Regions from separate parts of the Homo sapiens genome. Here region 2 is linked to region 1. The links come from fine-mapping of genetic effects on gene expression. A gene starts in region 1. The other region holds a variant in brackets. All regions are shown on one strand. Distances are between the middles of the regions. Region 1 holds the start of SAMD15 (sterile alpha motif domain containing 15). Region 2 has its middle 36 kb from the start of NRXN3.

Region 1 (5,376 bases):
GTACCAATACTTGATTCATGGCCAATAAAAACAAACAATTATAGACTTCATCATAACAAGATGACAATTTCATCCAGACAGTAAAAACTTGCGCTAACTTGAACAGGTAAGTTAACCTTTCTCAGCTGTAGTTTGTTCCTCTGTAAAATGGGAAGAAAATGATTGTTGACATGACTAAATCAGAAAATATAAATTTTTTTCCACCTCTGGCACAGAATAAGCATTCAATATCTGTAGGTTATCATTACTATTATTTTATTAGCAACAAATCCTACCTCAAGAGGAAGAGCTTGCTCTGGGCTACTATAATAAACCCCTACATGACATTAAAAAAAAAAATTATCACCCTGCATTCTGAGGGTAAGAGGAAGGAAAGTAAGCATCTCTACCAATGTCCTGGGAGGAAGTGAATGCAGGAATGAATTAGATGTCAGGGGGAAAAAAAAACACACTCATCTATCTAAAACGCGTGGGTACGTTTGCCATAAACACATGAGAACCTAAAGGGGAAGTAAAAACATGCTTAATTTGTAAATACTGGCGCATGCAAGGGACAAGTGTTATAAGACTTACCTTTCTGTGTTTACTTGCTTAGTCTTTTAGACATTATGCTTAGAATTTCTACTGCTATGTTAAATATATGCCAACGATTTTTAATTTAATACAAAGCAGAGTTCGTAAGAAAAAAAGGCAAAATTTGTCAGGTGTTTTAAAGTAAAAGAATATAAAATCATGGGAAAGAGCTGGGTGAGTTGTGTGTGTGTTTGAATAAGGCAGCATTATGAGAGGGAAGATACTTGGGATCAGAGTAGAAGACAGAAAAAGGCACCATGTTGGAAGCCATACATCCAAGAACACCTCTGGCGGCACAGGAAGTTCAACTGAACAAAAAGAGACCTTACTGTCACAATGGTTGAGACGAGTATAGTGTGTACCATGGACTATACCCCAAATGCCTTAGACAAAGCAGCTCAAGTAATCCTCACAATAATCCTATGAGGCAGATATTTTTAGTAATCACATTTTACAGATGAGGAAACTGACGTTTCAGACTCCAATCCAGGCACCCTGGCTCCACAGTAGTGCCTCAACCATTATACTTTATGGTGTCTATTTTAATTTCAGACCTAGAAAATTAATTTATATTTGCTACTTAAATAAGACAAGTTCTCTCCCCTCTACCCTTTCGTATTTCAAAAGAGCATCCTTTCAGTTGCATCGTGTGTGGTGTTCAGGAGGCTGAAAGAAGAAAGTGTGATGGATGGACTCTTTTGTCTTTGGACACTGAAATAATACACACGGAGGAACTCGCGTTAGTAGAAATGGAGACGTCGTCCTGGACAAGAAGAGGATGAGGGTCTTGAGAATGAGGGAGGTAGGCCAAATTTTTAATTCCTGCTCTTGCTTTGGCTACTGTGTTCAAGCAAAAGACCCCAGACACTACCTATTTCAACTCTGCTTTTCATTTTTCCCACTCTAAGCGATGGAGAGGATGGCAGCAAGGCCAGGGGGCCTATGTGCAGGAAGGCTAGGGCGCAGTGGGCTTCTGGCAGAGGAAGGCAAGGCTGCCAACCCGGGTGGGGGCCGAGAGGCGCGTGGTAAGGCTGGGGCAGGGGACTGAGATGGGGATAGGGTGGGGAGCCAGAAGCAGGGGGCGGCGAGGCCAGTAGGGTTCGGGTCGGCAGTCTAGATGTGATTAGCAGACGGAGGTGGGACCCGAACCCCGGCTGAAGCTGAAACTGAAGCTGAAGAGGCGCCAGGGGCAGAGCCACCCTGTCACTACCATTTGGGCAGATCTCAGAAAGGAAGCGGGGCAGGAATCAAGGCATTTCGAAACAGGAGTGAGTAGAAAATAACCTCGAGCCCAGGGCCCGGGTGGTGGCAGCGGCGGGGAAGGGGCCCCGCGCGCGAAGGGGCTGCCGAGGTGGGTCCGCTCCGCGGGGAAGCCCAGGACAGAGCGCGGCGGAGGCTCGCGCCGTGGTGCGGGGCCCTGAGGCCGGGCGGCACCCACCCGCCAGCGCCCCGGCCTTGCGTACCTGAGGCGGCCGCCTGGCTCCCCTCCACTCCCTGGCAGTCCCCGACGCCGCCAGCCGACCCTGGGCGGGCTGTGGGGCTCCAGGAGCCCGGCCCCTCAGCCGCCTGCAGGTCAGACATCTGCAGCCCGCGCACGGAGCTCTCCGCTGCCAGCCGCGAGTGGCTCCGGAAACAGCCGAAGGCCGAGCGAGCGCCGAGCACAGCCGAGCGCAGCCTGCAGGCCGGAAGAAGCGGCGCGGCGGCCGCTTGAAAAGCTAGCTGACCCAGGGGCGGCCACAGGAGCTCTGGCCCGCTGAGGCTGGCGATGAGGCCGCAGGGAGGGTTACTGCGTGCTTGTGACAGACGATTTTTAAAGTCAGGGCTTGAAAGAACAAACAAAACCTGGGGAAGAGTCAGGAAGACACTGCCGGAAATCGTGGTATCCATAGAGACGCTATCGGAAGTTGGGGTTGCTAGGAAGCCGCGGCGCGTCTGCTAAGCTGCAAATGGCTGAAGTCCCGGAGGATTATGATTCCGGCCCAGATGAAGATGGAGAGCTGGAGCCTGAGAGGCCTGAACTGCCTGGACTTCATAAATTGTATGAAAATGCCGAACCAGACACCATGGCAAAGGCAGACTCGAAGCTACCAGCAGAGATTTACCAAGAGCCACAGCCAGAGACCGAGGAAGAGGACTTCAAAGAGGGGGAGCCAGACAGTGCTAAGAACGTGCAGCTGAAACCTGGCGGGACGTCCCAGGAAGGAATTGCCAAGGAGTCCAAGAGAGACGTACCAAGCGAAACTGAACCAGGGATACACCAAGAGGTAAAGTCGGAAACATCCAGAGAGATGGGAGAGTTTTTCAAAGATTTGGAGGCCCCTATGGATGAAACGCATAAAGAGTCAGACCTAGAGCCACCAGAGGAGGCTAAACCAAATGTTACAGAGGATGTGTTCCTAGAGTCAGCTATGGAAACAGATCCAGATCCAGTGCCACCAACGGAAACCATGTCTGAGGTTTCGGGGGCCACAGTCAGAGAGAGAAATTTAGAATTACTAGAGGAGGAGACTGAACCGGGGGTTCCAGAGGAATCACTTAGAGTGCAACATGAAGAGACAGGTCTAGAGCCTCCAGAGCAGACCAAACAAGATTTTCCAAGTGAGAAACTAGGAGAATCACTTGAAGAGACAGATCTTCAGCCACCAAAGATGACCAAACCAGAGACTCCAGAGGAGACACAAAGAGAGTCAACTGAGAAGAAAAGGACAGAGCCACCCGAGCAGGCTAGACTGGAATTTCTGGAGAAGGAACCAAGAAAGTCTAGTGAGGAGGCAGGTCTAGAGCCTCCAGAAGAGACTCAACCAGAGGTTCCAGAGGAGATGCAAAGAAAGGCAACTGAGGAGAAAGGGACAGAACTACCTGAGCGGACTAAACCAGACTTTCCAGACCACAAGCCAAGAAAGTCTACTGATGAGAACGTTCCTGAGCCACTAGAAGAGATCAAATTAGAGTTTCCTGAGGAAGAATCAAGAAAAACAAATGAGGAAACAATTCTAGAACAATCAGAAATGATGAAACCAGAAAGTCCAGAAGAGATAAGAAAGTCAAATGAGAAAAAAAATCCACAGCCACCAGAGGAGACTGGTCCAGTGCTACCACAGGAGATCAACCCACAAGTTGAAGAGAAAACACAAACAAAGCCAACTGAGAAAATTCTAGAGTTACCAGATGAAACCAAACCAAGGGAGACACATGTAGAATTTTCCAAGGAAGACAGGCCAGAACCAATAAAGTCTAAGTATTCTGTAGGAAACGATGAGCTAGAGCACCGTGAGCCTAAAAGAGGAAAGTTGTCACTAAGTGACAAATTTAGAAAAGAATATTACGCATTAGGATCTCTCAGAGAAAGTGAAGAATCAATTGGTACACATTATGAGTTTTTGCAACCACTCCAAAAATTGCTTAATGTCAGTGAAGAATGCTCATACTCAGATCCCTCAGAGTCTCAGACAGAATTAAGTGAGTTCGTTCATGAAAAGGAAGTTGTAGATTTGTCCCAAGAGTTGAAGGAACGGGTCTCTGAAGATGACGAAACCCAGCCAGAAAAAGGGACTGAGTTACAATTTGAGCATCTTAATTGGGATCCAGAGGAAGTTGCAGAGTGGATTAGCCAGCTAGGCTTCCCTCAATACAAGGTATACAAAAATAAGATGTTTTGAAATCACATGCTGTCATCCGTCTACTTCTTATTCCTTCTAACTTGGCCTGAGCTCTTACCTCTTTACCGGAAGGAGTATCAAAAAGTCCTAGACTGTGGTAGAGGTAACTTGGATTTTAATTTTGGCCTTGCCACTGATGTATATTTGTATTTTGGGAGAGGAAGGGAGGGTCACATCGGTTTGTTTTTCCTCTTCCAGTGATTACACTTCTCTGCAATCCTTGAATAAAAGACCAAGAAGAGTATATAGACCTCCTTTCTTTTTTTTTTTTTGAGACACAATCTCGCTCTTGCCAAGGTTGGAGTGCAGTGGCACGATCTCGGCTCACTGCAAGCTCCACCTTCCCCAGGTTCACGCCATTCTCCTGCCTCAACCTCCTGAGTAGCTGGGACTGGGACTACAGGCGCCCGCCACCATGCGCGGCTAATTTTTTGTATTTTTAGTAGAGACGGGGTTTCACTGTGTTAGCCAGGATGGTCTCCATCTCCTGACCTCGTGATCCGCCAGCCTCAGCCTCCCAAAGTGCTGGGATTACAGGCGTGAGCCACCGTGCCCGGCCTTAGACCTCCTTTCATAGAAAACTGTATTTTTAAGTAGACTTTGTTCAAGGTAGGCTTTTTGGTACTTTGTCAAGTTATTTTAGTGGCAGCTCCCTTGCTTTGAACTTGTGCTATTACTTTTTAAAGTGTCTGCCCCAAATATGTCACCTGTATCATGAGCACTTAAGTGTATTAATTCAAGTTAGCCAGTTAACCAAAACTAGTTTTAGTAAAAAGTCAGTGTAAACCTCTTGTTTCACTGATGCCAACTAGGTTTAAGGCTACCACAAAACAATACAAGATCTGAAACCTTTTGTACCTACTATACTTACAAATGTAATTGAGACATGAAGAAGCACTGGTTGTACCATGCCCAAAAAAACAGTTAAAGAGCAGTGTAAAATTTAATAAAGAGCTTACATGGAAAAATTGTGCCGTTATTGGGATAGAAAGTAAATTTAAGCTACTCAGGAGGCTGGGGCAGGAGGACTGCTTGAGTCCAGGAGTTCGAGGCTGCAGTGATCTATGACTGCAGCACTGCACTCCCGCCTGGATGACAGAGTGAGACCCTGTCTCTAAAAAAGAAAAAACAAAATAATATTTTT
Region 2 (5,376 bases), 760 kb after region 1:
AAAGCCACTGGAGGTTTCTGAGCAGGGGAGTGATAAAGACAGTGGGGAGATGGCTCGAATGGTGGTATCCTGGGTGGATCCAGAGGGAAAATCCAGAGGTGGGAAGGGCAGGAGGAGGCTGTTGCAGCAGCCCAGGCAGAAAGTGATCGAGTCTTGAACCAGAGCAGTGACAGTGGGAGGGGAGGGGAGAAACAGATGCGAGAGACATTGGGAAGGAAGAAATGGCAGACTCCAGAGGCTGATTGGATGTGGGGGCGAGGGATTTTCTCAGCCTTTCAAGGGAAAAATGCCACCTCCATCCTCCTGCTAACTTCAGCTCAATGGCAGGAGTGTATCAGTGACAAAGAGCTGGCGTGATCAGTGCCTGGAAGCATCTGTAGAAAGTCATGAAGTCACATGCCTGTAGGCAGCTGAATGTGAATGGGAAAAAAATTTGTGTCACTAAATGGTCCTCTTGCAAAATGTGAAAGGAAATGAGCATTTATTTTAAAAAAATCTGCTGGGAGCACCATGCCCCATCTCTTCCAGTGGCTGAATTGCTCCGGAGGAGTTGCTCCCACCCACCTGGCTGTGGTATGGGCTGCATGTCCTTGAAAAAAGGATTAAAATAATGGCCAGAAGCAGCCCCAGGAAGGTTTCCTTCAAGCTTTTTTGCTCATTAGATCAGCCTGAACTTCAGCCATGTCTGAGGCGGGACATGCTGTTCTGCTAAAATATACAGACGGCTTTCAGAGAGATTTAAAAATGGAATTTATTAAAGCAACAGTTGGACAATTCCATAACAGTGGCCCCACTAACTGTAAATTTCTGCAGTCACTTGATCATTCTGCACCTCCATCTCCTCACTTGTCAAGATAAGGGCCTGGACAAGATAGAAACTCCATTGTTTCTCCCTGGGCTAACATTCTATGCTTCCGTGTGCCTGATGGAACCTATTGAGGGTGGCTTCAATCAGAATGAGGTTGAAAGGAGGGAGGTCTTACAGATTTTTTATTTAGCTGCCAAGTATTTGGAGTCAAAGCTTTTGGGGGAACAGCTTTTTCCTCACTGAGCTCCAGTATTAAATACTATCCTCTGCCTGCCCCTCATTACTTTTCCATTAAACAGAGCTACTTGCTGATAGATCACCTGGTTTTTAGGCTGAGGATATTTTATATTCATCTTCAACTGGGTGGTATATAGGGTTAATATAATTTTGACATAATTTATATTCATTGGAGTCATTTGCTGTTCATTAGACAAGCAATAGAGCATCATGGTTAAGAAGCTAAGGCAGGGGAGATGCAGAGATATTGGTTAAAGGGTACAAAGTTTCAGTTATAAAAAACAAATTCTGGAGATTCAATGTACAATATGGTGATGATAGTTAACAAAACTTTGCTGTATTCTTGAAATTTGCAAGTGTTTTCATCGTTCATATATAAAATACAATGGGAGGTGATAGATGTTAATTAGCTTGAGCATGGTGATTATTTCACATTATATATCAAACATCAAGTTGTGTACCTTAAATATATGTAATTTTTATTTGTCAGTTACACCTCAATAAAGCTAAAAAGCAATAAAACAAAACAGAAGCCAAGGAAGTAGGTAAGCTATGAAGTGTGAAGCTGGGGTTTGAACTCAGGAAGTCTAACCAGGAGGACCCTGTTCTACATGCTATTTTTTTTTTTTTTTTTTTTTTTGAGACAGCGTCTCGCTCTGTCGCTGAGGCTGGAGTGCTGTGGCGCGATCTCCGCTCACTGCAACATCTGTGCCTCCCGGGTTCACACCATTCTCCTGCCTCAGCCTCCCGAGTAGCTGGGACTACAGGCAACCGCCACCATGCCCGGCTAGTTTTTTGTATTTTTAGTAGAGATGGGGTTTCCACCGTGTTAGCCAGGATGGTCTCAATCTCCTGACCTTGTGATCCACCTGCCTCAGCCTCCCAAAGTGCTGGGATTACAGGTGTGAGCCACTGCGCCCAGCCTCTACATGCTATTTGATGCAGGTACCTTTTTATTAGTGTGCTCAGGCTGCCCTAACAAAATACCATAGATTGGGTGGCTTAAACAACATAAGTCATTTTCTTACAGTTCTGGAGGCTAGAAGTCCAAGACCAAGGTGTCATCAAGTTTGGTTTCTCCTGAGGCCTCGCTTGTTGGCTTGCAGGCCATCTTCTCTCTGTGTCCTTTCCTGGCCTTTCCTCTGTATGAACATAGAGGGAGAGAGAGCTGTTTTCTCTTCCTCTTCTTTCTTCTTCTTCTTCGTCTTCGTCGTCTTCTCCTTTTTTTTTTTTTTGTAACAGAGTTTTTGCTCTGTCACCCAGGCTGGAGTGGAATGGCACGATCTTGGCTCTCTGCATCCTCTGCTTCCTGGGTTCAAGTGATTCTCCTGCCTCAGCCTCCTGAGTAGCTGGGATTACAGGCGCCTGCACCACACCGGGCTGATTTTGTATTTTTAGTAGAGATGGG[GT/G]TTCACCATGGTGGCCAGGCTGGTTTTGAACTCTTGACCTAGGTGATCCGCTTTGGCCTCCCAAAGATTGCAGGCGTGAGCCACCATGCCGTCCTCTCTTGCTCTTTTTATAAGGACACCAATCCCGTTGTATTAGGACCCTACTCATATGATCTCGTTTAATCTTAACCACCTCCTTAAAGGTCCTGTCTTTAAATATAGTAACATTGGGAGCAGAGCTTCAAAATATGGATTTTGGGGAATCACAGCTCAGTCCCTAACAACCTTTCTCATGGATTCATTGAGAAGATGAAATGAGATTGCATGTGAAAAGGATGTTATGAGGACAGTATCTGGCATACAGTTACTGCTCAGAGCTGCTGCTCTTGTTATTATCATTACTACCTTTTGATGTGGACACAGGGAAGGGACTAAAACTCTTCCAAGGTGCTAAGAACCCCCAAGGAGGGTGGGTTTCCTCTTCTTTCCATCCTTACCACCTAAGCCACCAATATCTCTTGCCCGGAGTCCTGTAACAGACTCCTGTTCTTCCTGGCTCCTGACGTCTTCTGTGTCCACCTTAGCCACACAAGCATGAGTTTTAAACATGTAAGTCAGGTGATGTCACTCATTTACCTAAAATCCTCTGGCTCTCCATTAAACTTTGATGACTGGGCTAACTCCCAGCTATGGCTTCCGACCCCTCCTCGAAGCAGCCCCTGCCCTCCTGTCCCACTTCTTTTCCAATCAGGGTTCCCCTTGCTCACTATGCTCAAGTGACACTGGACTTCTTTTAATTTCTTGAAAACACCAAGCAAATTCTAACCTTTAGGGCCTTTGCCTTCATGTGTTTTTAAGTTCTAAATACTCTTTCTTCAAATATCTGCTGGGTTTGCTATCTTATCTCATCCAAGTCTGAGCTCAAAATATACTTACCTGCCACTCTCTCTAAAGCTTCTCCCTCTTCCATGGTTGCTGTCTACCTTATTGCCCTGTTTTATTTTCTTTATGGCACTTAGTACCGTCTAAAAGACCCATCTTATTTGTTTATTTGCTTATTATCTTTCTTTCTTAATAGACTATACACTCTCAGAATGAAAGGATCATTTCTTTTTGGTTTATTGCTGTAACTTCAGTGCCTGGCATGGAGTATAAGCTCAAAGCACATTATTTGAATGCAAGAATAAATGAATGAGCTTGAATCTGGAGATTCAAAGTAGATGGGGACTTCTTGGGATAAACATCCACAAATTGAGGACAAAGATCATGATGGCAAAGTAGGAGAAGGGGTATTTTTCCCCCCTCATATAAGCCTTATTCAGAATGCCTATTTTAGGACCAGGTACAAGCATTTAAATTTTGGTCCTCATGGTGGAATGTGATATTAATAAAATTTTTTTAAGTTGTGGAATTTGGATTACTTTGGTCTTTGTTTAATTTATCCCGGGTCCCCAAAGGGTATGGCTGCTGAAAAAAGTATCCAGGCATGAGTCACAGAACCTAAGTCTTATCTTATGAGTCTTGGCTGTGGCTGTCTTGATTCTTCTTTTGATCCGGTGGCTTTCCCCTGCATGCTTAGTCATGCCCATGCCCAGGGGTCATGCTTTCCAGACTAGAGAGTATACTATGCACTCTTTCTAGGGTGATATTCTAAGTATTTAATAACCGGTATAACAATGACGCTGACCATTCAGCTATAAACAACCAGTACAGCTGAACTAATGTGTATTGGTTGAAAGTCACCTCTGACTACCCCATCAATCCCCTCCATAGTAAATATTTTCATAGAGAGTTTTGTCTGTTGCCAAAGAGGAAGTGGCTGTTTCTACGTGCCCATCAACACTCCCCTCCCCACCTACACCAGCCCAGCCTTTTCCTGTGAAATGCTTCACTTTCTCCATTGTAGCCAGAGTCCCTTTTTCTTTCTTGGGATCTAGTATCAGCAGCCTGCCAAGTACACTCATTCATTCAATGAGTATTATTGAACACCTTTTATGTTTCAGATGCTGTGTTGTTTGCTGGAGATAGAGCAATGAACAGGCACAAGTCGCCTCCCTTGTGGAGCTTACATTAAGGACATTCCAGTATTTCTGCATAGTTCTTTATAAAGTACAATCAGTCCTCCATATCTGTGGGTTCCGCATCTGTGTATTCAATCAAAAATATCCAGTTGAAAAAAGTTACACAAAGTTCCAAAAAGCAAAACTTAAACTTGCTGTGTGCCTAGTACTATGTTGAATCAAACAAATGAAATGATGTGTAGGTATCATATTAGGTATTATAAGTACTCTAGAGATGATTTAAAGTGTACAAGAGGATGTGTGTAGGTTATATCCAAATACTAAGTAATTATATAAGGGAGCACCTGAGGATTCTGGTGTCCATGGGGGTGGTCCTGGAACCAATCCTTCACTGTTACTGAGGGATGATTGTGTAATATTGAGTTACTAAGTTACTGAAGTGTTGGGGATGGAAGTGAAGAAGGAGAAACCATACTAGAGATGCAAGAGGAGGGGTTTACTGCACAGTTCTCATGAACTTCAACCTTTTGCCCCAAGAGGTGGCACCCTTCCCCTTGTACTTCTCAGTTTGCCCGGGTCTTACCCACAAATGGATTACCCACCTGAAACCACACCAAATCATCTGTCTGCATGTATTGCTACTGCCTGGAGGCTCCTACCCCATAGTGCTGGGCACTGTGGGTCATACTGGACATTTGCAGGCCTTTTTAAACAATGATCTAAAATTTTCATTTATCAAGCCTTTTTACCTTCTCTTATTTTCTCTTGACAGAACATGGGGTTTTGATACAACTCTCAGTGGAGCTGCTCCATGCTTTGGCAGATTGAGAGTCCCACAGGCGTCCTGTCTGTACTCCTCCCACATAAGACATCCTATTACACCAGGAGAAAGTGTGGGCCTGCTGTTTTAGGTGGAGACGTG

The links. PIP is the estimated chance that this variant, and not a neighbour inherited with it, causes the effect.
Region 2: its variant is the best candidate, but not a certain one, in a credible set for the expression of SAMD15 in testis (GTEx, PIP 0.81).

The regions. Positions count from the first base shown.
Region 1 is chr14:77,374,900-77,380,275 of GRCh38, forward strand. SAMD15 (sterile alpha motif domain containing 15) reads left to right here and starts at 2,480. Exons shown (of 3, transcript NM_001010860.4): 1 at 2,480-4,208. The coding sequence starts at 2,520. TMED8 (transmembrane p24 trafficking protein family member 8) reads right to left here and starts at 2,195. Exons shown (of 6, transcript NM_213601.3): 1 at 2,037-2,195. The coding sequence starts at 2,154. RefSeq lists a silencer at 1,773-2,202 and an enhancer at 2,253-2,462.
Region 2 is chr14:78,131,564-78,136,939 of GRCh38, forward strand. No RefSeq gene overlaps it. Among named protein-coding and RNA genes, the nearest start is that of NRXN3, 36 kb to the right of the region's middle. The variant GT/G (reference allele first, on the strand shown) is at 2,454.